Linked DNA regions of Homo sapiens. Each later gene encodes a partner of the first gene's protein in a complex. Each region holds a gene or a part of one and is shown in the gene's direction. Other genes may lie near its edges. The genes, in order: CACNA2D1, CACNA1E and CACNA1C.

The links.
Region 2: the proteins of CACNA2D1 (region 1) and CACNA1E are in contact, whole or in part, in a cryo-EM structure (PDB 8EPM), measured with the Homo sapiens proteins. Residues at the interface, in NP_001353796.1 of Homo sapiens: Thr170, Asp171, Tyr173, Ile233, Leu235, Ser261, Gly262, Ser263, Ser265, Gly266, Leu267, Lys270, Ala327, Lys328, Gly329, Ile330, Thr331, Glu366, Gln391, Asn393, Tyr394, Ile416, Gly417; in NP_001192222.1 of Homo sapiens: Gln110, Leu112, Pro113, Glu114, Asp115, Asp116, Lys117, Pro119, Arg122, Asn630, Phe631, Asn632, Asp633, Gly634, Ile1330, Gly1331, Asn1332, Val1334, His1336, Met1341, Val1343, Arg1346, Arg1393, Ser1394.
Region 3: the proteins of CACNA2D1 (region 1) and CACNA1C are in contact, whole or in part, in a cryo-EM structure (PDB 8WEA), measured with the Homo sapiens proteins. Residues at the interface, in NP_001353796.1 of Homo sapiens: Thr170, Asp171, Tyr173, Ile233, Leu235, Gly262, Ser263, Ser265, Lys270, Thr274, Ala327, Lys328, Gly329, Ile330, Glu366, Gln391, His392, Tyr394, Ile416, Gly417; in NP_955630.3 of Homo sapiens: Phe147, Pro148, Glu149, Asp150, Asp151, Ser152, Asn153, Ala154, Asn678, Lys1090, Gly1091, Asn1092, Tyr1093, Ile1094, Tyr1096, Gly1099, Val1101, Pro1104, Ile1106, Arg1109, Tyr1156.

What each region holds. Positions count from the first base shown.
Region 1 is NC_000007.14:82,432,177-82,442,845, reverse strand, and holds part of CACNA2D1 (voltage-dependent calcium channel subunit alpha-2/delta-1 isoform 1 preproprotein), read left to right. Parts: intron 1-10,669. UniProt on the Homo sapiens protein: The alpha-2/delta subunit of voltage-dependent calcium channels regulates calcium current density and activation/inactivation kinetics of the calcium channel. Plays an important role in excitation-contraction coupling.
Region 2 is NC_000001.11:181,476,340-181,488,007, forward strand, and holds the start of CACNA1E (voltage-dependent R-type calcium channel subunit alpha-1E), read left to right. Parts: upstream 1-7,177; 5' UTR 7,178-7,404; coding exon of another isoform or gene 7,405-7,405; coding exon 7,406-7,671; intron 7,672-11,668. UniProt on the Homo sapiens protein: Voltage-sensitive calcium channels (VSCC) mediate the entry of calcium ions into excitable cells.
Region 3 is NC_000012.12:2,690,537-2,699,669, forward strand, and holds the end of CACNA1C (voltage-dependent L-type calcium channel subunit alpha-1C), read left to right. Parts: intron 1-270; exon of another isoform or gene 271-363; coding exon 364-663; 3' UTR 664-7,414; downstream 7,415-9,133. UniProt on the Homo sapiens protein: Pore-forming, alpha-1C subunit of the voltage-gated calcium channel that gives rise to L-type calcium currents. Mediates influx of calcium ions into the cytoplasm, and thereby triggers calcium release from the sarcoplasm.

The sequences.
Region 1 (10,669 bases):
TGACAGCCTTCCGATTAGACGCGTGCTGGCTCCCCGCGGCCGAGCGTGCTGTCCACGCAGGGGGCTCGCAGGTACTGGGACCACGCGATCCAACCTCCCCAACCCATTATTTGAAACATCTAAGTGTCGGCAGACACGCGGTCCCTGTTCTTCAAATGAATAGAGCCTATTCTTTGAAGGAGGGACTATTTCCAGTCTCCTACAAATTTTCTTTTATTTTTACCATTTCTAAAATAACTTTTAAAAACCTCGCTGCTGTTCTGGAAATAGAGGGCTTATAGGTAGCTATAGTCACACCACAGGAAGGGAATGAAAAATAATAATTCTCTCCTTTCTTAGCAAAATAGAATCAAACTCAATGGCACATATAAATATATACATATTTTTTAATGCACCGAATAGCCTATCCGGCATTCTGGGAAAGCATTTATTTTGGTTCTTGGAGCTTCTTTAAAGCTTCTAAAGGTAGGTAATCTTAAGTGGATGAGTCACTTTAATGCATTTTACATAACAAAAACAAAGCCCAAGGTAGCTTTCCCGGTATTTATGCTGCTGGGAATTACTTGCTGTCCTTTGTTGGCTGAGTGCTGAATACAGGAGTTTTTGGTGGAAAGTAACAGTGAATCTTTAGCGGTTGAAATCCTGCGGCTATTATTTAAGATTCAGTTTTAAGTATTTATTACCTTAGGTGTCAGTGCAAGAATCTGGAGGATGCACATTCTATCCCGGAGAAGGGGAGTGTCTAATTTTTGTTGTCATTGAGTTACAGTAATGTTCCTCTTTAGATAATCTTCCATAAAACTGATTGCAGATCCTTTTTGTTATGAAGCAAAAGGGTAAATGCCATCTGGAGATCTTCGTTTAATTGGCAGGATGTTCCAGTCAGATATTTTTAAACATAAAAAGAGTAAGAATCACCCTAAGGATGCTTCAGAATTATTTACTCTTATTAAGGCATCACACTTCCATTTAATTTTTTAAGTCTGTTTGTTGCTTGGCCTGTAAAGTGAGAACTCAAATGAGTCGCTTGCATTCTGTGTCAAATAAATAAGTGGCTCTTTAAAAAACAATCACTTCCTAAATGTGTTCCGATTACTCATTTTTACAGTGTTGTTTTTAACTGACAATTTATCAATATTTTTATCATGGGAGGGGATACATCATCATACCATTGGGGAAAACTACAACAAAATACAACCTTTTATTCCTCAACATACTGTGGTAAAATATTAATGTAAAAATCCTTATTGTTAAGAAGAACATCTGCAATAATGCTTTCCTAAAATTATAAGTAAATCAATTTTCATGGTCAGAAATTTACTAGACACAAGAAAGAGTATATATAGTGGGTTAAAATGGGAAGTAGGACATCACAATTTCTTTTCTTTGGAAGGATCTGAAATTTTTTTTAACGATGAAAATTCAAGATATTTTCAAATTATATAAGACATTGATTATTTAATGAATGAAATACTTAATAAAAGGTTTTGTGGAGCGAAGTCAATCTCCTGTAGGTAATCTTAACAATATTTTTGGAAGCCTTCTGCATCTTCAGTTTTTCATTTGAAAAGTTAGTAACACTGTCTTCTGAGGAAAGAACTGATGGTTGACATTTGTACTTCATGTTAGATTTCTGAATAAACTTTATGAAATTAAAAAATGCAATATTTTTCATAAAGATGTGCCATTTGCTTTTCTTTCGAGAAAAGAATTCATATGCACTGTTTAATCAGGACAAATCTCAAATCTTTGGGGGAAAATTTCAAATTTATAAAAACTGAGTGCAAAGACTGTAGTGTCAATAAAGGCAAATTATTATGCTTCTGTATGTAAATTTCTCTCGGAATCATTAGTAAATATTTTTGGGTTTTTTTTTTTGCCAGTTTCATTTTTCACAGAAAAAGTAATGTAAGAAGTTTTTATCAGCTGAAGAGGAAGAGCATGCCATCACACACTATAAAATTAATTATGCACTAATTGGAGTTGGACTTCAATTAGAATTAGTAGTTCAAAGTTTTTTTTTAAAAATATAGAGTGTTTACATTTGTGTGAAGGGCTTAAATTCTATTATGGTAAAACAAATGATGTGTCAGTTAAGTATCTTCTTTCATTTTTTGCTCTCCTGTTTAACATACATTCTAATATAAATTTTCTTTTGGATTAAAGTAGTAGTTAACCTGTTCTAAGAGTTAACACTAAAATAGATGTTTTTCAGACAAGGAAATTTTGATATGATTATTTCTCTGGGTTAGGTGTTTCTTTTGGAAATGTTTGTCTCCCTAAGGTGTGAAACATAAATACATGATATGGTAGCAGCCACATAATGTGTATTGGTTGATATATAAATGGAAAATATATCATTTTTATGCTATAGTATGCACATGTCGTATTGGTATTTTTAAAATGTAGCTTTCAAAAAGGGTAGTTGTCCGTTTTTCTAGAAATAATTTCTTGTCACATGTTAAAAGACTTCTATTTTAATATTTAGAATTACATGTGTGATAGCCAGTATTATAATGGTAATTTAAATTTGTCCTTAATTTTAGAATCTATTTACAAATGCAATTAAAAAATATATAGTTATAACTGTTAATATCAAACTTTTATCTCAGTCACATCAAAATGCCAGTCAGTCTACAATAATTGGCTGAGAGCCTATTGGTATACAGGGATTTTAATATAAAGTGTACAATGGTATAAATATAAAACTAAGAATTGTGGATATCCACAGGAAATAAGCATAAATTCTCATAGAAGTATAGTACTTTTGGCTTTAATTACTTAGGATATTTTTTTTTCCTGTTATTAGAGAAATTTGTATTTAAGGCTATAAAGGAGAAATTTTGTATGTCAGGATATTGTAATGGATATCTGTTCCATGCATTATAAGTGACATAATTATTCTCACTTGAAGTCAGCAGTTTCTGTTTACATTTTACATACACAAGGAAATGTGCCATATGATCAATTATGAGATAAAATATTAAATGTAAAATAAAACCTGAAACAGTGAACATTAATAAACTTTTCTCAAGTCTTTAATTTTGTTCTCATCGGCTTAACCATATAACATTTACTATTCCACAGATGTATGTTTTAAAATATGCAACAATAGATATATTTTTCCACGTAAGTAGTAATATTATGTTAAATTTATTAATGTTACACATAGCTATATGTGTAGCTATTTGGATTGGCATTTGAATGAAAATTAAGCAGACTGAAATGGATATAATTTTTGAAAAAAATGTAAGAAAATACAAGAATCTAAGCATATTATGGTTTATTAAAGGGAAATGAAATGTGCCTTTATTATCTCCCCCTCCCATGGCTTTCATTAATTTAATTTAATAAATATACATAAAATTTGAATATAAAGTAGGTGGTTCATTTTGACAATAGATAAGAGCTTTACAGTTGTTTTCTTCACAACAAACTGACTGTGTAGACATCTTTCTGTTATTTCTCCAACATTGATAAAACTAACAATAAAATACTCTTCTTTCTAGGGTTTACACATAGTAAATTTTTACAAAAACATAACATATGGAAATTATTATTGTGCTAAAATTTAGTATATATAGGAGTATATATTCATAAACAATAATGCATTGAGAAATTTTACAAATAATTTTTACAATAGTGCTCATAACAAACTATATAATTTACATATTCTCTGGAGTATCATTATATAAAGCACCTCTTAAGGTTTCTCTTGATTTCCCTATTTCTCAATATAGATGCAAGTTTCCAAGAATTTCCTAGCACATGTCTTCAAGCTATTTATAACTTTAAATTGGAGATTTAAATGGGTAAAATGAAACATATCTTAGGCAAATCATGCAATTTGTTGATCTCATTTAATGTCTTATATGTATGGACATAAGCATTTCTAACGTAAGTATACATAACATTTTGGGAAAAAAATCAGAATTTCAGTATTTCAAAAAAGTAACATTTTATTGTTATTAAAATGACAACGGTCCATTATTTCTATTAAAAGAGCTGTCTGTGGTAGTGTTTCAAAAAGCAGGTCAGCTGCTTTCCATGGGGAACAAACTTTGTTCTATTATATCGCCTCCACATTTACTTAAGGCTTACAGTGTGCATCAAGCACTGTGTCACTAACTGTGTCAACCAGTCTTTCTTTTCATGAACTATCTGTGAGCAGTACCACGACTGTTCCCAAGGCTTTCATACAGTTGCTTTCCAGTAAACTAGGAATGGGCTGTGATGGCCAACCATGTAGCTTACACAGGATTCATTTTTTTGTATGTGCACTGAAACATGTAAACGATTGCGTAGTGTTGTTTACAGAGTTGAAAGAAAAAGGCAATTGACCTCAATGTCAATTAAGTAAAAGTGGCAGCACTTTGTGAAAAAATACTATGTTACTACCTTTTCCTTGAGAGTCCAAAATATTAACATCGTATAATTAGATAACTTTCCTAGTTTGTGTCACTATATAGTATTCTATTTAATAGATAGTATTTTATGTATATGCAAATACACATATATACGTGTGTATGTCCATACATATTTTTAAAACTTTAAGTGGATTGACAGAGTAGAAAAACCTCAGTAAGGTAAGTTTATTAACAAGTGTGCATACCTTAGGTCTTCTGTCAGTCCACAACTGTTTTCAGGGATTAAATCTAACTTAATAACACCAGCATTTAAGAATGATTTGCCAAGACAATTAAATGAGATATTGCATACACAAGCAGCCTGAAAATGCTCAAGTCCTATAGAGACGGGTTACTAACATAATTGACAAGTAATTAAAAAAGTGATTCTAAAGACAGTTTTGCTGTCTTTTAAACAAGTGTGAGAAAGAAACTATACCATTTGAAATGTTGGCACCTATTAAAAGTTCTTTACATACTAAGCAGTTTTATTTCTTTCATTTAGATAAGATATACTTTGAAATTTAGAATTAAACATATTTGGTGGTGTGATATTTTAGGAATGAAGGCAAATGTGCACAGGTTTAAAATTTTTATTTGTAAAATATAAGCTCTTAAATATCCCTTCTTTGTAGGCTTTACATCTTTTGTAGTAATTCAGTACATAGAATCAGCTACTCTTAGCAGTTTTTAAAAATGAGTAAAGAAAGCGGTCATTGCTCCTTTATATTTTGCCACTTGTTTGTACAGGTTATGAACGAGGAAAAGATTGACTTTGTGGCCTCAACAAACCGGCACACTTTTTATAGTTAATTTCAATAATTCAGAATTAGGCTGTTATATATAAAGCAATATTTGAAGTTCTCTTTGAATATGAATGTGGGATATTTCTGGCTAAATGTTATTTTAACATTTGCTTCTGCTGATTTTTTTTAACCATATGCTCTGTGGATTTAAAAAATTAGGATACATTTAAAATTCTGTATCATAAATGGAAGAAAAACTTGAACTGGTGGCAGTAGAAAATAATGGTGCTGGCCATTTTAAATGCTTCAGATTTGGGGATAATCTTACTGTCTATTTGAAGCTCTTTTTTTCTGTGTAATTAAAAATACGCTATGGTGGTCTTCTGGCAAATGATGGAAAGCAATTCCAATGTTATTTTATTCAAATAATAAATTCTGGTTTCTCTCTCTTTCATACACATGCATATAATTACTATTAACCATAACATTATTATTTGTATATAACATCAAATCAAATGAAAAATTTTAAAATGTGTTTCTCTTAAGTTACCCATGATCAGACCTCAATTTCAGGTCCTTTTCACTTCAATCTGTGCTCCCTGTTTCAGATTTCCTGTTATCACCAGACATTTCTCTCTAAGAGAAATTGTTGAGGGATTTTGATATACAGATAAACCTGTAATATGTAATCAACACATACCAAAGTTGTCAAGCAAGTCTAGAGAATTGTTTCTTTTGATATTTGCCCAATACCTTAGGGATAATTAGGGAAAAGAGGGGAAAGAGCTAATAAAATTTTTCTAAGGTGCATACTGTCAAACTATGTGAAGGGATGGTTAAATATTAATAATGCCATATTTTGAGAGTTACAAGAGGGATGGTGCAATGAAATAAATGGGCTCAGGCAGACTGCAAAAATCTCTTGTTTTTAAAAAGTGAGCAACAGGCATTGTGGTGAAAATACTCTGAGGAGTGATGGATGTGTAAGTGGGGCAGAGAGAAGAGCCCTCAGATTTATGAGGTGCAAAATTACATTAAAGATACTAAAGGTAGCAGTTGGTTATTTTTCTTAATGCTTCTGTTTTCTTCATTTCCCATATGAGCTTGGTTATATTGGAAATGCTGCTTCCTAAACATAATAATCATTTTTAGAGACTTAAATATTCACATTTGGAAATTCACCTTAGAGACCAAAGACAATAAAATTATCTAGATCTCAGAACATAAGTACTTAAAAATTCTTAGTTTTTATGAAATTCTGGGAAATGGTTTATTGGATAAGAAACACTAGTATAACATTTAATTAAGAGCTTAAGTGCTAATCAACAAGAAAGAAATTCTGTTAGAAAATTTTTTTCATTAGATTACAAGAAAGAAATAACTTGCAGGTAAGCAGCCTTCTAGGTAGTATACTTAAAACTAGGCTTCTAAATAAATAGTACATTTTATTTTTGAAGTTGTTTTAATTTATATTGCCTTTTTAAATATTTCTTGTTTCAAATATTTTTTAACACCAAATATAATTTAATTCAACAATTAACGTGATGATGATTATTATTCAGTGCAAATTACGTACTGCGCTGAGCTACATGTTGAGAATACAAACTGAGGGAAGAGAGTCCCTAAGGAAAACATTAGCAACTCCAAGCTGACTATGGAACACTGGGATACATCAGAGCATGACCAAGGAAAAAGTACATTGCATACTGAAGGGGCATGGTCTAAAGAAACGTGGTCTGTTCTTTGTTAGGCATTGGACTTGTCAATTGGAAGTGATGTTGGTAGCTATTGGCTTAAGTCTGGTTATAAATTTCTTGCATCCTGACCCAAGGAGGGGATGAGCAGTGCTCATATTACATCGACATTTGCAATAGCCCTGTTTGGTGTACCAACACAAATTTGGTCTTCTATCCTGTGTTGCTGTTGAGATTTTTAAATTAAAAAAAAAAAGTAATAGGTTTGAATCATAATATGTAGAAGATGGATTAAGGCGGGCCAGTATATTAGGCAGAGGCAATGAGACTAGTTAGTATACCATTGCAGCATTCACTGAACCAGAGATGATGCCCGAGGTTTCAAAAAGATTAGTGGCAGTGAGAAGGTGAAGCAGGTATGAAGTAGAAGTACAATTTCAGGACTTGGTGGTTGTGAGATTTGGGGAATCAGGAAAGGAAGAAGAATTGGAGATGACTTTTAGATCTCTAACATGTAGATCATGTGTCATTAAATTTTGTAGGCTAGAGAACACAGGAGGAATGCAGGTTGATGTTGTGAGAGTGGGAGTAGGTTGATCGTTGGACATTTGGAGTTTGCAGTGTCTTTTAGATGTCTGTTAGGCCCTTAGAAATATGTATCTGGGCCGGGCATGGTGGCTCACACCTGTAATCCCAGCACTTTGGGAGGCCGAGGTGGGCAGATCATGAGGTCAGGAGAGATCGAGACAATCCTGGCTAACACGGTGAAACCCCATCTCTACTAAAAATACAAAAAATTAGCCGGGTGTGATGGCATGCGCCTGTAGTCCCAGCTGCTGAGGAGGCTGAGGCAGGGGAATCACTTGAACCCGGGAGGCGGATGTTGCAGTGAGCCAAGATTGTGCCACTGCATTCCAGCCTGGGTGACAGAGTGAGACTCCGTCTCAAAAAAAAAAAAAAAAAAAAAAAGTATCTGAAGAGAGTTTGGAGACAAATTCAGAGAGCAATACTTTTGAAGGCAGAAGAAGGATTTTTTTCATTTATTTAACTCATATTTATCTATAATCTACTAAGATAGACACTGAGTTTCAAAAGAAGGGCCTTGATTTACAGTTTCATTTTGTGGAGAGGTCAAACTAGATGACCCCTTAAAGGAAGTCATCAGGCCACTGATGAAAGAAAGAAGTCTAAGTAGCGTGTCAGGGACAGAAGCATGGTTTCAGTGGCTTGAGGAGTTGGTCAAGTTGAGAATATGGAGACAAGTGCAGATTGTTTCTTCCAGGAATTCGGTGACATGAGGAAAGTGAGAGATAATAGAGTAAATTCAGAGGAAGACATTATCCTTAGCAAACTAACACAGGAACAGAAAACCAAATACTGCATGTTCTCACTTATAAAGTGGAACAACATAATGAGAACACGTGGACACATAGAGGGGATCAACACACACTGGGACCTTTCAGAGGGTGGAGAGTGGGAGGAGTGAGAGGATCAGAAAAAATAACTAATGAGTACTTAATTAAGTACTTAATTAATAACTAATTAAGTAGACTTAATGCCTGGCTGATGAAATCATCTGTACAACAAACCCCTATGACACAAGTTTACCTATGTTACATACCTCCACTTTTACCCCTCAACTTAAAAATAAAAGTTAAGAAAAAACAATAAATAGTAAGTTAATATTAGGCCGTTTGGGATTGTAGATTGTACAAAACCATAGGACTATCTTAAACCAAAAAGAGAAATATTTTTAAATGGTAGTGGAGCTGGATGATCCATCATGGGAGTTCAGGTCAAGGATGTTCCAACAACTGCAGAAAAAGGTGAGACTGCTATCATGATAATCTCTCAAGTCATTTTCTGCTTTTCTTTGTGTCACTTCTTTCTTCTCTTTCTCTATAAATTGGCATTATCTGCCTCCAGTGCTCATGGTGTTGAATGGTTGCGAGGGATTATGCTTTCTCCTTTGAAGCCTTGAACCAGCTTGAGTGTAGAATTCTAGTCCTAAAGATAACCTCCCAAAGAAGATGTGTTGACAGTCTGAATGTGGGCCAGATGGCCACTTACAGTCCATTTAATTGTGACCAGGAGATGGGATTTGGAAAAGAGACTCTGGTTGCCTGAGCTTGGGTTAGTTCACCATATCTGGTCCAGTCTTCTTAGGAGGTATTACATGGTAAAAGGCCAGTTGCTATTACCCTGGATAGGGGAAGAGCCGATTCTCAGAAAAAGGCTCTGGTGAGAAGGGTGGGGAAGGTGTGGAAGGCTGTACAGACAACTAAATAGTGTTACCAGAAGGGAGATTCCAGTATCTCAGAGGGAGAAGACCAAATGTCAGAGAGATGAAAGCAATGAGATGCCATGATTGATGGATGAATGTTCTGATAGAGGCAGGTGAGGAAGGGATCAAGACTAAACACAATGTCTTACAAAGTAACTTTTGAAATATGAAACAGCCTTGAGAATTAAAGCAGATGGTTGGAATACAGGATAGATATAATTTTAATTTACTGGAGATGTTTTTAGAGGAATGATTTAAATTACATATTCCATTCTCAAGAAGGAATGACATAATTCAGAAATGTAATACATACACATTAGTAATATTCAAATTTTGAGAGGAATGGACTAGAGTTTTTCTTTCAGTGGTAGTAACAAGACTCCAGTTTGCCACTATATTACCTTTGGACACAGCAACATTTGGTTCTCACTTGTCTTTATTTTTCATTTACTTCTTTCCTAGGAGAGATTATCATCTTAAAGATTCATGTAGTTTTATAACATGTCGTTAGAATTTTTTTTTTTTTTTGAGATGGAGTCTCACTGTGTCACTCAGGCTGGAGTGCAGTGGTGTGATCTCAGCTCACTGCAATCTCTGCCTTCCGGCTTCAAGTGATTTTTTTGTCTCAGCCTCCTGAGTAGCTGGGACTACAGGCGCACGCCACCACACCCGGCTAACTTTTTTGTATATTTAGTAGAGATGGGGCTTCACCATATTGGTCAGGCTGGTCTCGAACTCCTGACCTCAAGCAATCCACCTGCCTTGGCCTCCCAAAGTGCTAGGATTACAGGCGTGAGCCGCGACACCCAGCCGATGTCATTAGATTTTAAGTGTGTGGTGCTTGTGGTAGAAAGATCTTCCAGTAATATCATTGAAAAAGAAACAGATAAAAGAACAAATAGTTCTTTCCTTTGGCAATTGAGCATTACTTATTCATTAATTTTAAGCAGATAGTAGTGGTTTACTGCCCCACTCTATTGGTGCTTCCTGCCCCCAGTAGAAGGGAGAAGTTTTGGTCGAAACAGATCCTTGTCAAGAAAAGAAAACAGTAAACTCTAGAAGATTAAAAAACCACTGGAATTTGGGCGAGGGCTCGCTTGTAGGCTCAGCTGTTGGGGAGGCTGAGGCAGGAAGATCGCTTGAGCCCAGGAGTTCAAATCTTGCCTGGGCAACATAGGCTCATCTCTAAACAAATAAACAAACAAAAAACTGACAGAATATCCCTGCAAAGCATATCCTTGGTTAAACCTCACTGAGGCATCCCAGGTCTCTTGAAGGTCTGGAAATTACTGGCACTTGCCATCACGGCAGTTCCTGAGTTTCCAAGATGAATGAATGAATGGTTAGGATTGCAAATGCCAGTGGATCTAAGAATCAGTCTTCATCTCATTGGTACCATTGCAGTGTGGAAAAACCATGCTTGCGGTTTGTGGCAAGAGATAAGAAGAGTTAGGGTGGGCTATTTATTTCCCTTTTGTGACTTTGCTCTTTTTTCTCTCCCATAGATATTCACAGTTTGAACTAATTTTGGTGTCTCCA
Region 2 (11,668 bases), on another chromosome or scaffold:
GAGAGAGGGTGTGGTGATGGACAGGTGGTGGCTTAATCTGCTGATGATTCCAACACAAAGGGTTCTTGGAGAGGCAGGATTGGTGGGTGCAGTGGAATCTTATTCTCTTTCTCTGGGCCTTCAGGGCCCCTTTAGGCTTGACTGCAGCTGTGAGCTGCATTTTCTGTTACTGCGGCATTATCTTCAAGAGTGAAATGTAGGGAGTGGATCAAGACCAGGCAAGACACGAATCCAACCTGGGCACCTTCTCCTAGGCACTGCCTCCTTTGGGCTAGCCCCTGACATGATACCTGACACGTGGAAGGTGCTCACTGCATGTCTGCTAAATGAACCAATCGGCCTGAGCCCACCCGGGCTGAACGAGCTTTGCAAGGTGTGGGCTGTGTTGTGTTTTCTGAGTCAAGAGGCCGTGGGGGTGGATGGATGGATGTGCTCCTGCCGGTTGTTCTCACCCTCTGCTCACCCCCATCAGTGGGAGCTGGGGCGCTGCTGAGTCCTCCTGCTGCACTTTGCCTTGGCTGAGCAGCAAGGTTGGGCCCTGAGGGTGGGAAGGGAGGTAGACAGTGATGGGCATGGGATCCTTTGCTGTCTGGGGCTAAACTCCGAACCTCCAAATCAACTTTCCCAATAAAGCTTAATATCTATTAGGGTAAGCATATTTTTGGCTTTTCTCTGGGCTGAAAGGTGACCTCATCTTATGGGAAAGAAAGGCTTGAAGTGGTAATGCTATAATCTTCGTGATCCTAGATACATTGAAAGAAAATAAAAATGCTGATTTACTAATTAACTCCATGCATCTTGTGTACTGCCCCCCTCCCCACCCCCCAAAACATCCTAAACATTCATGCTGCAGGCTGCTGCTCCATGCCTCCAATAAACTAGCTCTTCAAAGAGATCTCTTTTGTATTCTTCCCTTTTCCAGCTGCCTCCAGTGGGAGGGGATGGCTCCCTGCTCTGTTGTCTCCCAGTACTCTCCTGTGGTGCACTCCACATCCCGCCTTGTATTCGAGCCCTTTGTGGGTATGTTTTCCCTTCTCCTCTTTTGAACTGTAAGTTTTTAGAGGCTATGACTGTGTCTAATTTATCTCTGAGCCCCAGAATCCCTGAGAACAATGTGTGGCTCATCAAAGGGGATTAATGAGTATTTGTTAAATGGGTTTATGAATTCATGAATAAGTAAACAAACACACAGCTCTCTCAGGTATCATGGCCTTTGGGTCTCCAGACACTGGTCTCTACTATTTTTTTTTCCTTTTTTCCTCCATTCCTCTTTCTGACCTGATCTCAGGCACTTACATGTCTCTGCTCCTCTGTCCATCCCCCGCACAACAGAGTGTGTTCATCCCTGGCTGCACTTCTGAAGTTGGCTTTCAGAAACAGAGTCTGTAGACATGCAGTGTTTCCAGTGTGTTACCGTGGTCACAGCTACTGAAGGTGAAATGTACATAACAAGTACTTACGTAGCACATACTTATTGTGTGCAAGGTACTGATCTAAGAGCTTTATGCATATAAACTAACTTAATTTTCACAACAGCCCAGTGGAGCAGAATGGTATTATTCTTAACAATTAAACCCTCTGGGAGACTCTCTGGTTCAAGGTCATGCCTTACCTCTCTAAAGCTCAAGATCCTGCCTATAACTTGACTCTTAAGCAAGGAAAATATTATTTTGACATGCAGTATGTTAATAATGGTCACATATTGTGAAGAATCCTGTCCTTATTATTAGGAGATCCAGCTCTGCTATTTCCTAGCTCTGTGCACTTGGACAAGTCCCTGACTCTCTGGGTGTTCAGATAACAGGATGTGCCTCACAGTCCTTCTGCAAAGATGCAATGAGAAAACATTACGGTTGGCACCCAGGAAGTGATGGGTTGTCATAAATGAATGGTTTTTAAAACACTTTAAAACCAACTTTGCTGACCTGTGGTTAGCTGATAGCATGTTGGAGTGTGGGGCTTCTCAGGCTTAGGTTTGAGAGATGCTGATTCTAGGGACGGACATTACATAAGGATGTGAAGTTATGTTTTCACCCAAGTAAGGGCTGTGAGGTATTGTGAAAGCCACCAGACTCCCAAGATGTCTGCATTGCCATAATGCTCCTCTGCTCCACTATGCATTTGCACATGGTCTCCTGCCAACTTTTTTCTTAAGAACCCACTCCCAAATCCTCTCTGCATTATGTTCCTTAGAGCACTGCTTTGCATAAGAGTCTATTTCTTGGAAAAGCTCAACGGAGGAAAAATAGAACAAAAGGGGCTCTGATAACTTAAGCATAAGCTATCTGAGTGTAACTGGCAGGGTGGGGGAAGATGAAGGAGCAGGCCTGGTGGGAGGGGCACAGGCCATTTGGATGAAGCCCACATTCACAGACTTCTCAGTGATGGGTGAAAAATCTCTTATGAAGATGGCCCAAGGCCTGACAGATCTGGGAAGAGCTTAAGAATGAGGGTAATAGGCCAACTGCTTCTCCAACTTTGCCACTCATGTCCATCTGTCTTAGTACAAACTCCCACAGGCTGCCTGATCTGGGGCAGTGTGGACACCTTGTTTTCTGCCTTTTCCAGAAGAGGCTGGAGGGACTACCTACCAGTCCCCTTCACACCTGATTGCAGCTCGATGATACACTGCAGTAGAGGGGCTGCAGGATAAATGCTTTGAAATGTAATAGTCTTCATGGGCTTTATAAAGTAGGAAAGTTTTCCACTTGCTTCCTTAGCTCCTGTTGGGTTTCCACTTTGCAGGTCATTGCTTTCAGAAAAACATGTGGAGCATTTGGTAACCCCATCTTAACTTGGGAGGGTGTGTGTGGGGCTGCACTTTCCAACTACTGTGAGATGGGCTGGCTGCATTGTGGTGAAATTTAGTACCTCAACAAAGTCCCATAGGGGAGTAGAGGGCTGTTGACAAGAGGTCAGAGCCTAGGAATATCTAAGCTCTGAGGCATGGTGCATGGGGTGCTGGGCTGCCAAGCACTCGTGCTCAGTGACCAGTAGATGGTGCTCTGACAACAGGAAAATACAGTTACTGTCCCTCTGAGACTGGAAAGGGATTTTCAGATGGTCTTCAGACTGGTTTCCAATCAGAGTTATGACTAATTGCTAATTTTCCACATTTCCATTTGTGGATCCTTAATAGGACAGTGGAACTCGGGGCACTGGAAGGAGAATGCCCACCAAATTCCCATATGAAGAAATTCCCATATGAAGTCATGCAATACCGCATGACTACAGTATTCTGGTCATGAACTTTTTCTGAGGATCCTCCTGGATATTGAGGGCATGGTGCCAGGAACACTTGGCCTCTGATCAAATTCAATTTGAGGATGGTAAGCATAGCATTTCCATAGGCTTAGTGTCATTGTATAGTTTCTTCTCTTGATAAACAATTTAGAATTACCCTATTGCTGTCCTGAAGGGCAGCATGGGTTTTAGAAAGAGCCGCAGATTGGAAGTCAGATGTGTTAGAAGTCCACACTCTGCCGCTTATCAGATGTGGGCAAACGGCTTAACGTTGCTGAAACTCTGCTGCTTTGTCTGTCAAGGGTCGTGATACATGTGTTACCAGGCTCACCTCAGAAGTTTGGAGTCAGGCTCAGCTGTGGGGCTTATGTAAACTGAAAACTATTAAACACATGTATTATTCAACCATTAAAATTGTAGCCACTGGCGGGGCGCAATGGCTCATGCTAGCACTTTGGGAGGCTGAGGCAGGTGGATTGCTTGAGCCTAGGAGTTGCCAGCTAGGACAACATAGTGAGACCGTCGTCTCTATAAAAAAAAATAAAAACAACAACTGTAGCTGCCTTGGGGGCTGGTAGAATGGGGGATTAGAGAGTATGAAACCAGTATAGAAATTCATAGATCTCAAAGCTCTCAAGAGCTATGACAGCCAGGTGGGGGTGGAAGATGAGAGTCTGTCTTCCTGCTAGCACTGCTGCCCTTAGGCCAAGTCTCTTCACAAAGCCATTTATGCCATTATGTTTGCCCCTTTCCTTTTTGGCTGCACCCTCCAAGAATTATCCCTTTTAACTCACATAGGTGCTGAAACTCCCTAAGGTATTCCACATTAATTCCCAACCTATGCATTTATGATTCCTGTCTCCTTGGAAGGCAAGAAGGCAGATATCAACTCCAGTGTGTCGTCGCATTTGCACATGTAGTATCCCATCTTGAGTATTCTAGGTCTCTGAAGAATTACAACAGCCAAAGAGAATACAGGACGTGGAATACTGGATCTCTGCTGACATCTGATAACACTGAAGAGACAAGTCGGGGATCTCTGATGTTCCAAGAACTAAGTCTGGGAAGTAAAAGGCTAGTGAGCCCTGCTTATTCTGGGCATTGAGAAGGTATGCCGCCAGCCTGCTGAGGCAGAACCACAAAGGAAAGGGGTGAGGTGACAGCATGAGAGTGAAGTTCATGAAGCTTTCTGGCCTGCAAGGTTATACAATCTAGTATAATCTAGTGTAAAAAGCTACATGATTTATGTCATCACCCATCTTGTTCATTATAGTATCCTCAGTGCCTAAAACAGTGCCTGGCACCTGGAAGGGACTCAAAGATACTTCTCTAATGATTTGAATGAATTTTGTGCTATGGATTATGGTACTGTCTGAAAGGAGCGACATACACTTAATAATTTCTGAAAGCCCTTTTTCTAACCCTATGTAGTTTACAGGGATACCGAGATAGCCACTTGGGACTAGTTCTAAGTGACTGGCTGATGGGACTTCATGGTTCACAGCACCACCCTCCCTCCGTTTCACGACTGACTAGGTATTCAGACAGAAGAGGACCCTCTGATTAAAGCAGGAGGAAGGACAGAGTAAGGCAGTAATGTGAAATCAAAGTAACAATTACAGCTGACTCACCTTGAATAGTAATTTCACCTGAAATGGGCTCCCCTGAATCCAAAGGTCAAATGCCTTCCCCAAGGGCAGCAGGCTGGACATGTTGAGACCATTCCTTTGGATTTCCAGTAGAGAATTTTCCTACACACACACACACACACACACACACACACACACACTCTCACATACATTCTCACACAACAGACACATGTCAGTGCTCACAGGGCCTTGCCCACAGACAGACACATACCCGTAGAAACACACATGCCATGCACTCAGACATCACCTCACTTCTCAACAGTTAATCTCACTTCACAGGCGTGAAGCCATACTCACCCATGGTTTCCAACCTCTGGGCTTTGGTCAGTGTCTGTTTCCTTCCTCAGCCCCTCCTTTCCTTCTTCCCTTCCATTGTTCGGGTTGGAAGGATTTGGAGAGGCCTATGTGTTGAGCCAAGGCAGGAAAACACAGAAGACGGTGTGCCCCAGCTAGTGTGGACATGGGAGGGGACAGCTGGTCCCTGCCCTCAGTTCAAACCACCAGTCACCTGTGGGGAAGGGCTTGGCGGCTAAACAGGAGCTCTTTCCCTGGGGCTTGGAGTCCACCTTTCCCACCTCTGCAGCTCAGATACCAATTCTATTTTTTTTTTTTTCTACATTAATGGGTTGGGTTTGAGAAAGTCCGTGGAGCTTATTTGGGAGTAAAGGATGGGGGGCGGGAGGATCCTTCTGATTGTTCGCATTTCGAGAAGGGTAGTTTTAGCCCATAACTCACCATGGAGGGCCCTTCCAGGAGACGTCGGGCAGGGCTTTCCTACAGCGGAACCGGGAGGCCGCCCCGTGAGGGCAGAAGCTCCCGCCAGGAGCCAGCACCACCAGCAGAGTGTGGAACCCCCAGAGGTCCTAGCCTCCTCCACGGGGCCTCCCAGGTGCTAAGTGGGGAGATGGGGAGAGGGTTCTGCCCTCTACTTGGAAATGCCTGGCCGTGTTCGTGGAGCCTGGGAGGTGCGGAGGAGCGGCGACGCGGCCATGGCGCTAGGCGCGCAAAGGCCCCGACACCTTACTAGGGCGGCGGCGGGCCCGTGGCACCGCTCCCGGCACCGAACAGGGCACAGCACTGGGGACACCTCTCTGCAGGGACCCAAGACGCGCGTGCGTGTGCGCCCCACGCCAGGCCCTCGCTCTCTTGCGGAGACTCCGCCGCATCGCTGGCTGCACCTGCCTCTCTCTTCTCGGCATTACTTGGGGGAAAGGGGACTCTTCACTGGACCTTTGCAGAGGTGGCTGCTACCCTTTGGCCACATAAATCAAGAAGGCAAGCCAGCCTCACCTTCCAGGAACCTCCAGCCTTCCGGCTGCGTCCCCGCCCCTCCCGCCTGGCCAGCTCCTCCCCCGCTTCTCCCAGCGCTCTTGCGCGCCTCGCTGCGCCTCTGCGCGCCGCTCGCTGTCCTCTGCCTCGCCTCCCCATTCTCCTTCCGCATCTTCTCCAGTGCTCCGCCGAGGGCGCTGCCTGCGGGGAAGAGGGAGACTGAGCCGTTAGTGAGGAAGTTCGGTCTGTGGACAAGTGTGGTGCCAGGCCGCCGCGAGGCTCGGCTGCAACCTGTTCCTCGCCCGCCGGTGCTCGCCGCCCGCCCGCTCGCACTCCCGCCCTCTCGGCGGCGCAGCCGCGGATCGCTGTTGCATGCTGATCCGGGGAGGCGGCGGTGGCGAGCGCTCCGGGCGGATGCTGGCACTCAGGCTTCGCTGCTCTCTGGATGCTGCTCAACTTCTAGCCCAAGCGCAGGAGCTTTGAAGTCATTTGTCCCTTTTCGCTTGGATCGACTTCTTATTTTGAGATTTTGGGCATTGCGGTTTACGCAGGAACCTCAATATCGCTCTCCCCACCTCCCTCCCTCTTTCTCCAACCTTTGGATGCGTCTCTGCTGGCAGATATAAAGACCCAAGTCTTCGCGGTGGAATTTCTTAGATGGACTTGCAGGGGCTGGCGTTATAAAGCATGTCATCGTAACCCCGTCCTCGTCTTTGTTTATTTTTTTTTAAAGTTCTTTTGTTTTCATTTTCCCCTCCTTCCCACCCCTTCCCCCAACCAATAAATCACCAAACTGTTACCTAGCGGGCCGGTGCCTGCCTCTCTCCCTGAACTAGGTGGTGCGTCTGCCAGAAGAGGAGCTATGTTTGAAGAGCAGCCTACTCCACCCCTCTCCTCTCTGGTCCCTGAACACCACCACACACTGGCATTTTGAAAAAAATATTTTCCTCCAGAAACTGGGCACCCCCAAGCCCTACCACCCGCTTTTTTTTTCTTTTTTCTTTTTTTTTTTTTTCCTTCTTGAGGAATGGAGCTTCGCAGAGGTTGCATTTAGATTCAACAGTTCACAGCGGCGGGCTGCTGCTGCTGCCTCTCCGAAGAGCTCGCGGAGCTCCCCAGAGGCGGTGGTCCCCGTGCTTGTCTGGATGCGGCTCTGAGTCTCCGTGTGTCTTTCTGCTTGTTGCTGTGTGCGGGTGTTCGGCCGCGATCACCTTTGTGTGTCTTCTGTCTGTTTAAACCTCAGGATGGCTCGCTTCGGGGAGGCGGTGGTCGCCAGGCCAGGGTCCGGCGATGGAGACTCGGACCAGAGCAGGAACCGGCAAGGAACCCCCGTGCCGGCCTCGGGGCAGGCGGCCGCCTACAAGCAGACGAAAGCACAGAGGGCGCGGACTATGGCTTTGTACAACCCCATTCCCGTCCGGCAGAACTGTTTCACCGTCAACAGATCCCTGTTCATCTTCGGAGAAGATAACATTGTCAGGAAATATGCCAAGAAGCTCATCGATTGGCCATATCCTTTCTTGCCCACCATAACTCCCTCTCCCCCTTTGCATTTCTTCGGGTGAAGGGGGGTACCTAGCATGGAATGTATCCCCCACCCCTTCCTGGTGCCAATTTGCCCCTTTGCTGAAGCACACTCTTCGGTGCATCTAAGGGGCAAGCTTGGTGCCGTGGAGACCCGTTTGGGCACTAGTGTTTTTCAAGGTAAGACTTTTGGTTTTTTATTTTTCCTATGTGGAAATCTTTAGTGTCCCTGGGTGCATCCCTTTCTGGGCTGGGCTTTGTCTGATTCCCAGCCCCCTCCCCACCCCTACTCCCTTCACATGCCGCCCTCTACATAGATTGGGTTGCCCCAATGCTTCCTTTCATAATTAATTCTCATTTTCCTTTCTTTAAGCCAGCCACTCTGCCCGTATCCCCACCAACCAGGAGACACCGCACTGTCTTCCTGTAGGGAAGTCAAGGCTCCATGAGGGGATTTATCAGTTCAGAAGTTCCCAGGGCCAAAACCCTGTGTACAGATAGACAAATGAATAAATAAAACAGGCTTTTGGGTGGGGACTCAGCTAACTCTAGGGACTTAAGTTTAAGTTCCACTGAAAGTGGCATGAGTGAGTGTCTGTCAGGGGAGGTGATCTCTGTTGCCACAGCCCAAGGAGCTCAAACTTGGAGTTCTCCTCTCAGCCAAGAAAGAGCAGCTCATCAGGCCCATCCTGTCCTTGGTCCTTGGTTGGGTACTCTTGCTTCTTAGTGCTTGACCCAGCTGATTGCTCTCCCAGTATCCAGGATCCAGGTGGATCGGCTGGGCCTGAATTCATCCGCTGAGGCCAGAGGTGTGCATGCAGTCTCTCTCTCCCTAGCTCCAAAGGAACTGCTCTCCCCAAAGCACTGGTGGGGGCCATCTCTGATGGTGGTGGTGTCAGGGTGAACAGGCATGGAAGGAGCTTCTTTGCAGGTTTAATCAAGTGCACCAAATGCAGACTGCTGATTAGGCAGCTCACTGCCTTGTTCTTCACTAAGGATTGGACGCCTGGCAAGGCCATTGGGAATTGGGGGTGGTGAGGCAGTGAAGGGGATTAGTAGGAGGCAAGCTAGTGGTCTGGCGTTAAATATGGGGATGGGGTTGGAGACATGGGACTTTGGGAGGGAGATTTGGGAGGGATGCATCTGCAATGGAGGCCCCTTCTTTTCTCCCCTATTCTCCCTCTTTCCCACCCCCACCGTCCAGGTGTGCAGCAGTGAGGCAGCTGGAGCTGCCTTGGGTCTCTAGTATTAGCCAGACACGCGGCTCATTTCCCCCAGGGCCTGGGCATCTCCCTACTCCCCCAACCCCAGTCTCTGGCCTTCCCCTTCTTCTCTAGTTCCCTGCCTCAGCAGCTCGGTGATTGGCTGGCGCGTGGTGCTTCTAGGCAGCACCCCCTCATTAGAAACGAAGGAGCATCTCTAAGCAGATATTCTTCCTGCTGCTGTTCGCATCCTCCCACAGCAACCCCGGCTGGGCTTCTCCCTCTCTCCTCTCTGCATCCCGCTCCCCTGCTCCACTCTCACAGAGTGATCCCAGGCCATCCATTGCCTGAGTTGAACGTATCTAGCTAGGGTGGAGGTTTCGGGCGGGGGAGGGGTCGGGTCCCTGCAGTCACGCCTGCCGGTGCGCTGCACAAAGCGGACAGATCTCATTGTGTTGTGTGCTGCGGCTGCAAATATTCCTCTAGGCAGTCTACGGATTTCCCAGCTGGGCCCTCCTTTCTCACTCGGCTTCTACGGTTCTCTAAATCTTCCCATCCACCAGGTGCTGCCTTGCTGTGCCCCTCTCTTAGGGGCGTGTTTATTCAGACAGGCGCCCTCCCGTTTCTTTGCGGTAGACAAAGCCGCCCAACCGCCCCGCGGGTGGCAAAGTGTGCCAGCAGCCATCGTTGGCACCTCGGACAGCGCCGCTGAAACTCCCGGCGGCCCGGGGCTCCCCAGTTACCCGGGTTCAGCACCTCGGGTACTTCTGGCCGGGCCCAGCCTTGGAGCTGAGAAACCAGGCACGTTTCCTACACCACGTGGTCACCTTTTTTCACGTTTTCTCTTCCGCTGCAAAGACACCGCCTTTCCACCAGGCGTTGCGAGCGCGCAAGGTGCGGCTGTGAGTCTTACTCCTCCCTTTCCTTGTCTTTGGCCAAAAATGGACCAAAGAGAGTCAAACGGGAGACTCTCGAGGGAGTTGATTTCAGCATCATGCTCAGTGCCTTGGCCCCGAGCCCTGTCCCAATGGTCTCTTTTGTCTGCATAGTTGGAAATTTCACAGTGGTTCTACAGCATGTAGGCTGTGGTAACAGTGTTCAGGGAACATCTGCTAAGGTGTTTAGTGGAGCCCTGTTGGAAAATATAAAATACACCATGTACAATGTAATTGACTAATATATTCCCTCTGGTGGTGACCACGTGGAAACATTGGGCTTCCGTGGGAAACGCACCTAAATTCCTAGTCTCACCTTCCTTTCCTTTCTAAACAAATAACTTCCCAAGTATCTTGCTTTGTCTTATTGGGAGTCAGTCTGGGTAGTGGTTGCCCATAAAGCTTTGGAGCTAGGCTGCCTGGGTTGAAATCCTAGTTCCTTCACCAGCTTTCTGACCTTGAAAATTACTTCATTACTCTGTGACTCAGTCTTCTTACCTGTTAAATGAGGATAATAATAATAATACTGGGAGAATTAAATGACTTAATATATATCACATGCCTAAAACATTATCTAATTACCCAGTAATCACTAGTTGTTATTATTAATGGCATCTTTCAGAAATTTCAGCGTGCCTGAAGTGGGGAGGGGTCTTAGTTCAGGTGAAGTCCTCTAGATTCTTGCCTCTCAAAGAGAGCAAGGAGCTGCATCCACATCACCTGGGAGCTTGCTAAAAATTCAGAATCCTGGGCCCCACTTCAATCCTGCTGAATCAGAATCTGCATTGTAATGAGATCCCTGTGTGATTAATATGCTCATTAAAGTTTAGGAAGTACTTCTTTGCTCTTTGTAAGTGCCAGATTTTTTTTTTTTTTTTTAAGAAAGGAAGGTTGTTCAGTTGTTCAGAAAACATGTCAAGACCTGCTTTCATATTGACATTTGCACATTTAGCATGCTTGAGGATTTTGTTTGTGTTACAACACGTTTTGAGACTTACACTTTCATTGGCTGCAGAAAGTCACTGTAGGACGAGGGGGATAATGTACACTTCTATGTGCCGCATTAGTGGTCTCATCATGCTGTGCATTACTGGTCTTTAATCATGTTTGTCTGAAAAGATTGGTTAAGTAAAAGGAATGGTTTAATTTATGCTTCTAGGATCACCCCGACTTGGAGGGGGAGGGTAATCTTATCCAGTTATTAATAGGGGAGGTCTAGTTCTTATGGGAAGAAATGCTCAAGATAACCCAGATTTGGCATGAAAGATGGTGGCAAGTCAACAGCCTACTCTGAATGTGTTTCATTTTTCTTGGAAGCTACATCTGCATAGGGAGATAATTTTATTTTCTTATGGCACTTTCCTCTGCAGTGGATACCATACTCTTTTTAAAAATGCTAATGTGATTTAAAATGTGATGTTACATTCTATACGATTCCTCGTTTTCATTTTCTTTTTTGCTCATCTAATAGATCTTCTCTGGCAGTTGGCTGTTCTGAGTGCCCTCCCATGTTCACCGTGCCTCATGCTTACCAGCTCTCACTGTTTCATGCCCAGGGCCAGTTACCCTGTGGGCCATACAGCATCTCTCATGTGGTTTGCAGGATGCCCCACACTTGTTTGAACTTTTCCAGGTCACGGGTGTGAAGGCAAGAAGTAGTGTGTCTGGCTTGGAGACTCTATGCCAGAGTTGGGCAATAGGATATTCCCCCCACACCTCCATCGCCTTGGTTGTCTCAGCAGGGGAGAACATGCTTCGTGTGGAAATGAATATGGCTTACAGTAGGAAGGTCAAATATGTTTGCAGCCCTGAGATAATGAAGCTCATCACAATGAACCTGTGGACA
Region 3 (9,133 bases), on another chromosome or scaffold:
TGCCTGGGCCTGGTCTCGAACTCCTGGGCTCAAGCAGTCCTTCTGCCTGGGCTTCCCAAAGTGCTGGGTGACAGGTGTGAGCCACCGTGCTGGGCCATAAGCAAGTCTTCATATATTTGATGACAGTGTTTGACCACCCCAGCCAAAACTTCTCTGGCCTGCACATCCCTAATTCTGGCAGATGCTCCATCTCCACTTGTTCCCCATGGGTGCCCCTCCCAACACACACACGTACACGTGCACACACGCACACTTCCCCAAGTGACCTACCAGATACCCCCTCGCTCTAGCCCTCAAGGGAAGAGCTGGGCTCCAGGAGTAATGTTCCTTTGGTTCTTCATGGCTCCCACCCCGCTCCTTCAGGTCTTGATTTCAGAAGGACTGGGGCAGTTTGCTCAAGATCCCAAGTTCATCGAGGTCACCACCCAGGAGCTGGCCGACGCCTGCGACATGACCATAGAGGAGATGGAGAGCGCGGCCGACAACATCCTCAGCGGGGGCGCCCCACAGAGCCCCAATGGCGCCCTCTTACCCTTTGTGAACTGCAGGGACGCGGGGCAGGACCGAGCCGGGGGCGAAGAGGACGCGGGCTGTGTGCGCGCGCGGGGTCGACCGAGTGAGGAGGAGCTCCAGGACAGCAGGGTCTACGTCAGCAGCCTGTAGTGGGCGCTGCCAGATGCGGGCTTTTTTTTATTTGTTTCAATGTTCCTAATGGGTTCGTTTCAGAAGTGCCTCACTGTTCTCGTGACCTGGAGTTAACCGGAACAGCGTCTTCATTCATTTCTGTTGGGACCAGACGCGGAGCCTGGGTGCGCGAGCCGCCCTCCGGGAGGAAGGCGCCCGGCTGCGTCTGCAGAGGCGGGGAGAGGAGGCGGCGAGGGTCCCGGGGCGCGAGGAAGGCGCCTGCCCTCTCCCAGCTCGCAGGCCCCGGGCCCGGCCGCGCCTCCGCGGGGAGAGCACCCCGGCTTCCCGCGCGCCCTCACCAAAAGGACCCTACAGCAAACGGGTGTCTTTCGACTCTGCTTGTAGAAACCATTTGCACATATTCTGTACGAGCCTCGCTGTCTCCCTAGAGCCAGGGCCCTGCGGATTTGGAGAAGGGAGCGGGGCAGGACTTCCAGGAGGACCCCAACCCGGCCCGGAGAGGGAGGAGGAGGCCTCCAGGGGCGCGGAGCTCTGGGGATGGGCGTCGGGCCGGCAGTGGTGCGGCTCACTCCGTCCCTGCCCACCTGCGACGGGATCCCCCGACCGGCACGGGCCACGCCGAGCTCCCGGCCAGCCGCCGGCCCGCAGGCAGCGCGAGGGAGGAGCTGCGCCGCCGGCTCCGCCCAACCAGGTGGTGCTGAGCTTCCGCTGAGCGCTCTTTTGTTTTGTGGTTTGACACTTTTCTTGACAGCATGTTGCAGTTTCTTTTCGGTTTTGGTTTTTTTTAAATGTTTTATTTTGCTTTCCCAGCGGGAGGGGAGGAAGAAGAGTGTTTACAAAGTCCTGTAGCCCCCTCACCTTTCTGTTTTCACTTTTGCCAATGTACATCGGGTTTGGTTTTCTTGTATTATTTAAACGGTTGTGGTTTCCTTTTTCCACGGAGGTTCAATAGAAGCCGCTGCAGGAGAGTTTTACCAACCATTGTGTATGCCCAATAATTTGTTATCATTTCCTTAGGTAGTAACCTATTTTTGTTCTGGTTTGGTTCGGTTATCTAATGGAAAGGTAACTGGCAATGCACTTGATGTGGTCTTGCACATGTGGGTGATAGAGTTGGGTTCCTTTTTATGCTGGGTGTACAGGTGGGTTTGGGAGAGAGGAGCATGCGCGAGAGAGTCTCCGAGTGTGTGCGACGCGTGTGTGTGTGGTGGGTTGTCTGTGTGCATATGTCCTGCCCGTGTATATGCACCCACACCATGTGCCCGTGCACACCAGTGACTACGCAGTCCCCCCTTTCTGGTTTAGCTGTGGGAAGATCTGAATCTGGGGCCGTTTGAAAGCAAAAACAAACCACTGTCTCTGCTTCTGAAACGGGAATCAGTAACTCTTTGCATTTTCTGTCCCACAAGATATGCAAAAACAATGCAATAATATTCATTTAAAAATACAATTGTGAGTTGTGTTGGCATTAAAACTGTATTTTAAAAAAAGACAGAAATTTAAGGGAAAAACACAAGAAGGCATTTTGCTTCAATATATTCCGTGTAATGTTTTATTGCATTGATAATGTTTCTGTTGAAGAAACCGTTATACTTGAATTCAGGTCAGTTTCAGTATTTTTCAAATATTTTTTTAAAACTGAATTGCAATTGTGCCAAGCGAATATAATGAATTGAATTAAGTTGGTTTTCGGATTCACTTCTTGTATATTTTGCTGCATGTAAAGTAAATCATTTTGTATTTGGAGTGTGACAAGCTTTACCTTTGAACTCAAGTGCTTTTCTATATGTGGTTGGGGGAAAGGGAACAAGTTTTCTTTAGTTTGCACAATGAGCAAAGGTATCACCAGTGTAGTCATTATTCTGCTCTCCACAAACAGGTTTGGACATTACTGTTTTGCATATCTTGTGTTTGCTTACATTTCCCTCAATTTTTCCAAAATCGTTTGCTGGGTATGTTTGTACCGCCTCTTGCTGTGAGAGACCAGGACCTATTTTATTCCAGTCTTCACTCTGTCCACTCTGCTCTGGTCATCTGATTTGGTACTTCTCCAAGAACAGCCCTTCACTGTGAGGTGCAGGGAGGCGTTCTGATGAGCCCTCAGTCACTGGGCCGTCATCCGCATCCCCCATGGAAGAGGTAGCTGGCTTTCCCTTCCCTTCCACCACACGGAATTTTCTCTTTGGCTTCCTTAGGAAAGTGTACACTAACCGGGAGGATAAAATTAAAGTCAGGCTGCTTGGAGGGAGGGGCATCCTCACTTCCGGATTCTTGTTGCTCTACCCAACAAGGACAGCAGGGGCTCGAGAAAGGAACTGGTGAAACCCTGATCCATCTGAAAGTCAACTCTGCGTGCTCCTTTCTCCATCCCTTCCTCACTCTGGAGCAGCCTTTCCTTCAGGCTTGCCCTAATGTTTGGGCTGCCGGGGAGGGGGCCAGGACAAGGGAAGAGGCATCCGGAGCTCACAGTGGGGGTGGGAACAGATTTTTGTGGGGGCATCTCTAATGCTCACTTATATCTCCCTAGAACATCACTCTTTTGGTGCTGTGTCCTTCAAATGTATGTCAACAGTGGTGGCTGAAAAGGGACTGCTTTGGGGAAAACAGGACCCAACCATTCACCCAGAATTGACCCATTAAATCTCTTCCAGTCCTAGTGTTCCCTGAGCCCCTCTTGGCACATATATAAGTAAGCTAGAAATTACAATAAGGGACAGTCCATTCCTCTATGACAGCTTGCTGGACTGATTCATGACAAAGTGGAGAAATGTACTCAATACTCCCCGGTTAACACAGTCTAGAAACAGAGTTTCTTTATGGATATCCACACCCAAGTCATCCAAACTTTCTTGATTCCTTTTCACTGCCATCAAGGTCCTCTAGAAATTGAGTTTAGGTATCATCCTTTGAAAAGTTCCCAAGATTTCTACCAGGAGGTACACACAGGCGTTCCCTGTCTAGGGCAGGAGGACTATCCTAGCTTGACCTTCTGATCCACTAGAATAAGACTGGCGTATGATGCCTGTCATCAGAACAGACTGGCACAAGTAGTGACATCAATGAACCACAGCACAATCTTCCAAGTGATGTCTACTCTCCACCTAAAATGGAATTTTCCCCATGACCTTGTAAAACATAATTGTCACATCTTCCATACCCCTCCTGACAGCCCCCAAGTGTCAGGAGAAAACAGTCAGGGGCTAAGGGCCCAAGGGACTTGAAGAAACAACAGTTTAAGGTCTGCAGTTTGGTCAACTTAATTCTTGTCCTCCGACCAGCCCTGCCTCTTTCATTTCCAGACCTTGGAGAATTTTTCCCAGCTTTGATTCAGAAGGTACTAGTTATAACCCCTTTCCTTCTTCTTAATCCAATAGGCCTCACTCTCACTGGGAAATCCACTCAAAGGAACAAGGCAATGTCTCTCATTCTATTTCCCAGTTCCAAATTCCAGGTGCTTGTCTGGAGTGAAGCTACCCGTTACTTTCTCCCAGCTTTTCTCCACCCAGCATGTCTCCTGCCCATGCAGCTGAAGACAGTGGGGCAACCTCAGGAGAAGCAGACCTTTCCATGCCCAAGTTCATCTCCTGAGCAACAGTGACACCTAGAAAATGAGGACTTTGGAAGTCACCCAAAAGATGGTGGCTACTTTATGGAGTCCTGAAGATACACAGCCACCACTCCTAAAGGCAAAGAAAGAAAACACGAATGTAGGTCAGGGATAGAGTGGAACCCTGGTCATCGGGGTTTTTAGCCTCATCGTGGGAAAGGTGGTAAAGGAGGATGATGGCATCTCCATCCCTAGAGGCCAAGAATTGAAATATCATTGTCAAGGATTAGAAACAATTCAGCAAAGAGGCCACAAAAAGGGCCTGCTGACTCCCAGAAGACCTCTTTAAACCCCAGGGGAGGCAAATACTTGCTGATGGAGTCTGGGCCGTTTCCATATTTTAAAGAAGACCTGCCTCTGGGGCAAATGTCAGCACAGAGAGGACTGGGAGGAGAATGGAGGCAAGAAAAGGGCATATTTTGACTCCCTCTGTGCCTCTTCCCAGTTCATGGAAGGATGTGTTCAGCTTACCCACCCACAGTGACCAGTGTGGTGGAGCCGCTGACATCTCAAGGATCTATTTGGGAAGGTGAGAAGAGTACTCATTCCATCTGGGGGTGTTGTTCCAGCCACATCAGCCTACCTGGTGGGATGTGGGGGTGTCTGCCACCCTGTCCCCCCTCTGCTGATGTCCCTCCCCTCAGGCTGTCCAGGTGCCACCTGACACAGGCTGCTGTGCAAAGACAGGCGGGGAAGCCCAAACCTCACTCCCAGGGAGGCCCTCAGCCGCCAGAGTCCAGGTTCTCCAGAGGCTACGATTTGAGGAGGTTGAGGGGGAAGACAGGAGGGAAAGAAAAGTCCTACAACTGTCAGGAATGGGGCACCTTTCCCTGTCCCTAAGCAAAGCTCCCTCTTCCCACTGCCCTCCCCAGCCCCAGCTCCCTGTCCTCCCCAACACCTAGTGAGAAAGACGGTGCGTGGAAGGGAGTCCCATGGGCAGATGCTTACACGACCTCTTTGTGAAGCCTCTTCTGGGTTTAACTTCATTCATCAATTTATTCTTATGTCAAAGCAATGAAACTTTTCTTTCTGGAGCCAGATACCAATACAACAGGTGAACGGGTTTCTGCCACATCTCTACATTGACGGGGGATGCTTGAACAACCCCCCTCACTACACAGACACACACCGTTAAGGCACAAGGGCTGGGGTTGAGCTCTAGATGAGGGACTTTCCTGCTCCTGCAAGGGTGAGCACTGTATACACAGACAAGGAGGGTGCAGTAGAGTGACTCCCTTGGATGGAAGTAGTACCATCAGAACCTACTATTATTATGACATAAATTCTATTTACATACATTGAGAGAATACTACAATCAACACTTTTTCCTGGGATGACTTTAAGAGGTTTGAGCCACAGCACCTGAAGTGGCAAAGATCCATGGTCTTTGTAGGGTATTAGAGAACTCTTCCAGTCACCTCTGAAAGCACTCTAGATCTTGCAGCTGAGTGGATGAAGTGTAACAAATCTGTTGCACGCTGAGAGGAGTCAGAATTAGCATTTTTCATGAAAGTTCCCCACGTCTCTACTAAGAATGAGGAAGAAAAGACTAAGACTAGGTAATTACACAGAGGCTTGAAATGTTACATCACCAGAGCCAAGTCCTCTCCCTTCAGATCAGTTACTGGCTGCTACACAGGGACACCCCCACCTTTTCAGGGCATCCCATGCACTCCACTTCTCAGGATCTAAGGAATTTGACTTTGTAGGGATCCCAGAAAGGGCACTGTGCCACTTCCCCTGGTGTGAATCAGACATACATTGTACATTCATTTCTAAAATTCACTCATGCACCTCAAACCAAGGTCATTATCCAAAAAAAAAAAAAAAAAGCTCTGGGTGGAAGAGTTTGTAAGTTTTAAGAGAGGGTCATTTCTATGTGAGGAAATGCAGAAATGGACAGAATGATTCTTATTCACTGTTTGGGTCTGGAGAATTCCCATTGTGGAAATCTTAGAGATCTCAAGTTTATTACCAAGGGAATAAGGAAAAAAAGGTGAGCAGGCACCAGGCCAAGCAGTGGCTCCCTTGCCAAGGAACCTGAGGCTGCAGGTTTCAGGGACCCCCTTGAAGAAACCTCTCCTGGCCATTGGCCAGGAGAAAAGAGAAGTCTCTCCTGTAGAGTCACAAGAGAAGCAAAAGAGGGTGGGTCACTGGGTCCTGGACATAGCCCCCAACCCCAAGACTTCCCAATATGGAGAAACTACACCAATGTTTAAAAGGGGAAAAGGAAAGAACTTGTACATCAAGGGAAGATGATTTGTAAACACACAGTCCTGTGCAGAAAGATCCCCTTCAGGAGGTGTCTCCAGCATCCCAAAGCTGTGCGCACCTTCTCTTTTCCTGCCTCAGGCCACCTATGCATCCAGCTGCAGCCCATACCCACACCTGAAATCCATCTCTTGAATCCCAGCCAGGTTATATACCACCCCATTGCCATGTCCTGTCCTGGCCAGAATGCATGCTGTTCCCCCAAGCCTCGTGGGAGTGAGGCCATGGGAAACAGAGATGAGCATGTCTGGACAAGTCTGTGATGGTAGTGGATGAGAATAACCCATGGCAAAACACGCACATTCATTAAGAAATAGGGCGACAGATTCCCCGTTGGTGAAGCACTGAAAGGTCTATTACTCTCATAATATTGCTGTTTTATTTTAATCCACCAGAGCTACCATGCAAAACTTTCCTCCTGTGAAACGCTCCAGATAAAGCTCCTCTAATCTCCCCTTCCCTCATGTCCTCCAGCTCAAACCCACCTTCATCCCCCAAACCAATCTGTATCATGCCTGTTATCAGAGAGGCACAGAAAGATGGGCAGTGCCTCCGTTGTCACCATTCCCCACACCCCTACACACCCCCACACCCTCCCCTCCAGGCTCCACGACTTCACAGTCTTACTGTTGTAAATATCATTGTACAGTTTGTAATCCTCAAATAATCCCATTGTCAGAGGCCTCGCCTGATGGGCCTTCTCACCCTCGAGAAAGGCCAGGGAATCTAGAAGGGGCAACCCTTCAAGGAGAGCTTCAGGGTCATCTCTGTGTGAGACACTATTGTATATTCCTGTAAGATTGCATTTTTATCTAAGGAATGATGTTATTTAAAAAACAAACAAAAAACACAAAAAATAAGAATTGCAAATAAATTTCTTAACAATGTCTACATTGACTTCATTGTATCTTCCCTCTTCCTTATTTCTTCCTTTCTCCTGTTTCCTAGAGGTCACAAATACAAACTTCACTCAGTTATCTCAACTGTCTGGGATCCCCAAAAGGAAGAAGACTGGAGAGAACACAGGAAATATGAATCCAATGATAATACCTAAGTCCATTCAGCAGTTAACCCATCCCCTATTTCTTCCTTCTCATGAAAGAGTTGACAGAAAAATGGCCAAAAGTTAAAAAGGAGACAAAATCAGAGGAATTAAATGGCTAATTCACATGGATTAGACAGGAAAAGCAGTCTCTGAAATTGGTTTTGAAAGGACAGAAGGGAAGAGGGATGGAATGTAGGAGAGAAGAAAGGAGGGGGAGATATGATAATATATAAAGTACTATGAGGACTATACAAATGTAAGATTGCTTTTCTTTTTTTTTGTTATTATAACTTAATCTGATTTCGATAAACCTTTCAGAATAACCCCTTAAGTAAAAATAATTTGTCCCAGAGGATTCTGGGAAGATGGCAGAGTAAGGAGCACCAAGAATCCTCCCCGATAGACAACAAATACACTGGCAGAATCTGTTTTGTTTAACTATTAATATTTTGAAACTCTGGAGTCTAATGAAGGTTTGCAACTTTCAGGGGGAGGCTTGGACAGTAAATCAAGGTTGATTTTGGTCAATTTCAGCTCTTAGTACAGTAGCAGCTAACCCACTCTCCTCCCCTAGCCCACTTTCTACTCCTGGAAGGGTGAGCACTGCATAGACAGGCATGAAGAGATAACCAGTGTGACTTCCTTGGGTGGAAATAGTACCAGCAGAACCTATTATTATTATGAGAAAGTACTATTTATCTCATAATACAGGCAGCTGAGCACTTGTCCAATAGCACCTTGCACACAGCGTGTAGAGGCCAGAGTGGGCTAAAAATATCCTGTTCTTCAAATTTCAGGGATCTTTGTTCAGGATACTTATTGCTGCTTCTAATCACAGAGGTGCAAACACAGAGGTGGGCAGCTACTTTTGTTGCACCTCTCCCCACTGCTGCAAGCCCCTCCACCACTAGCTGAAGTGATTCCAGATAATTTGAAGAACCAGCACCCTTCTTCCCCCTTCACTTTTCTCTTTTTCCTTCTTTGGGAGACAGACATTAAAGACTAAGACACTCAAAAGCAACTGCATATACAAGGAAAATTAGAAAGTGACTGCACATACCCTGGGAAAGAAACAGGCTCAGAAAACACCTAAGAAGACCTGAAGTTTACACCTCATGCCGATGCTTGAGTGGCCTAAAAAAGACAAAAACACCACCACCAAACCCTAAGGAAGGAGGAAACTCTGATTTTCAGGGTTATCACATTCTTAGATTCAAATGTCCAGTTTTCAACAAAAAGTCACAAGGCAAAGAAAGAAACAGGAAAGTGTGGCCCATTCGAAGGAAAAATAAATAAATTAACAGGAACTGCTCCTAGAAAAGACCTGATGGCAGATCTACTCGACAAAGAGTTTAAAACAACTCTCTTAAAGATGTTTAAAAAAAAAAAACTAGGGGAGGAGCCAAGATGGCCGAATAGGAACAGCTCTGGTCTACAGCTCCCAGCATGAGCGACGCAGAAGACGGGTGATTTCTGCATTTCCAACTGAGGTACCAGGTTCATCTCACTGGGAAGTGCCAGACAGTAGGTGCAGGACAGTGGGTGCAGCGCACCCTGCGCAAGCC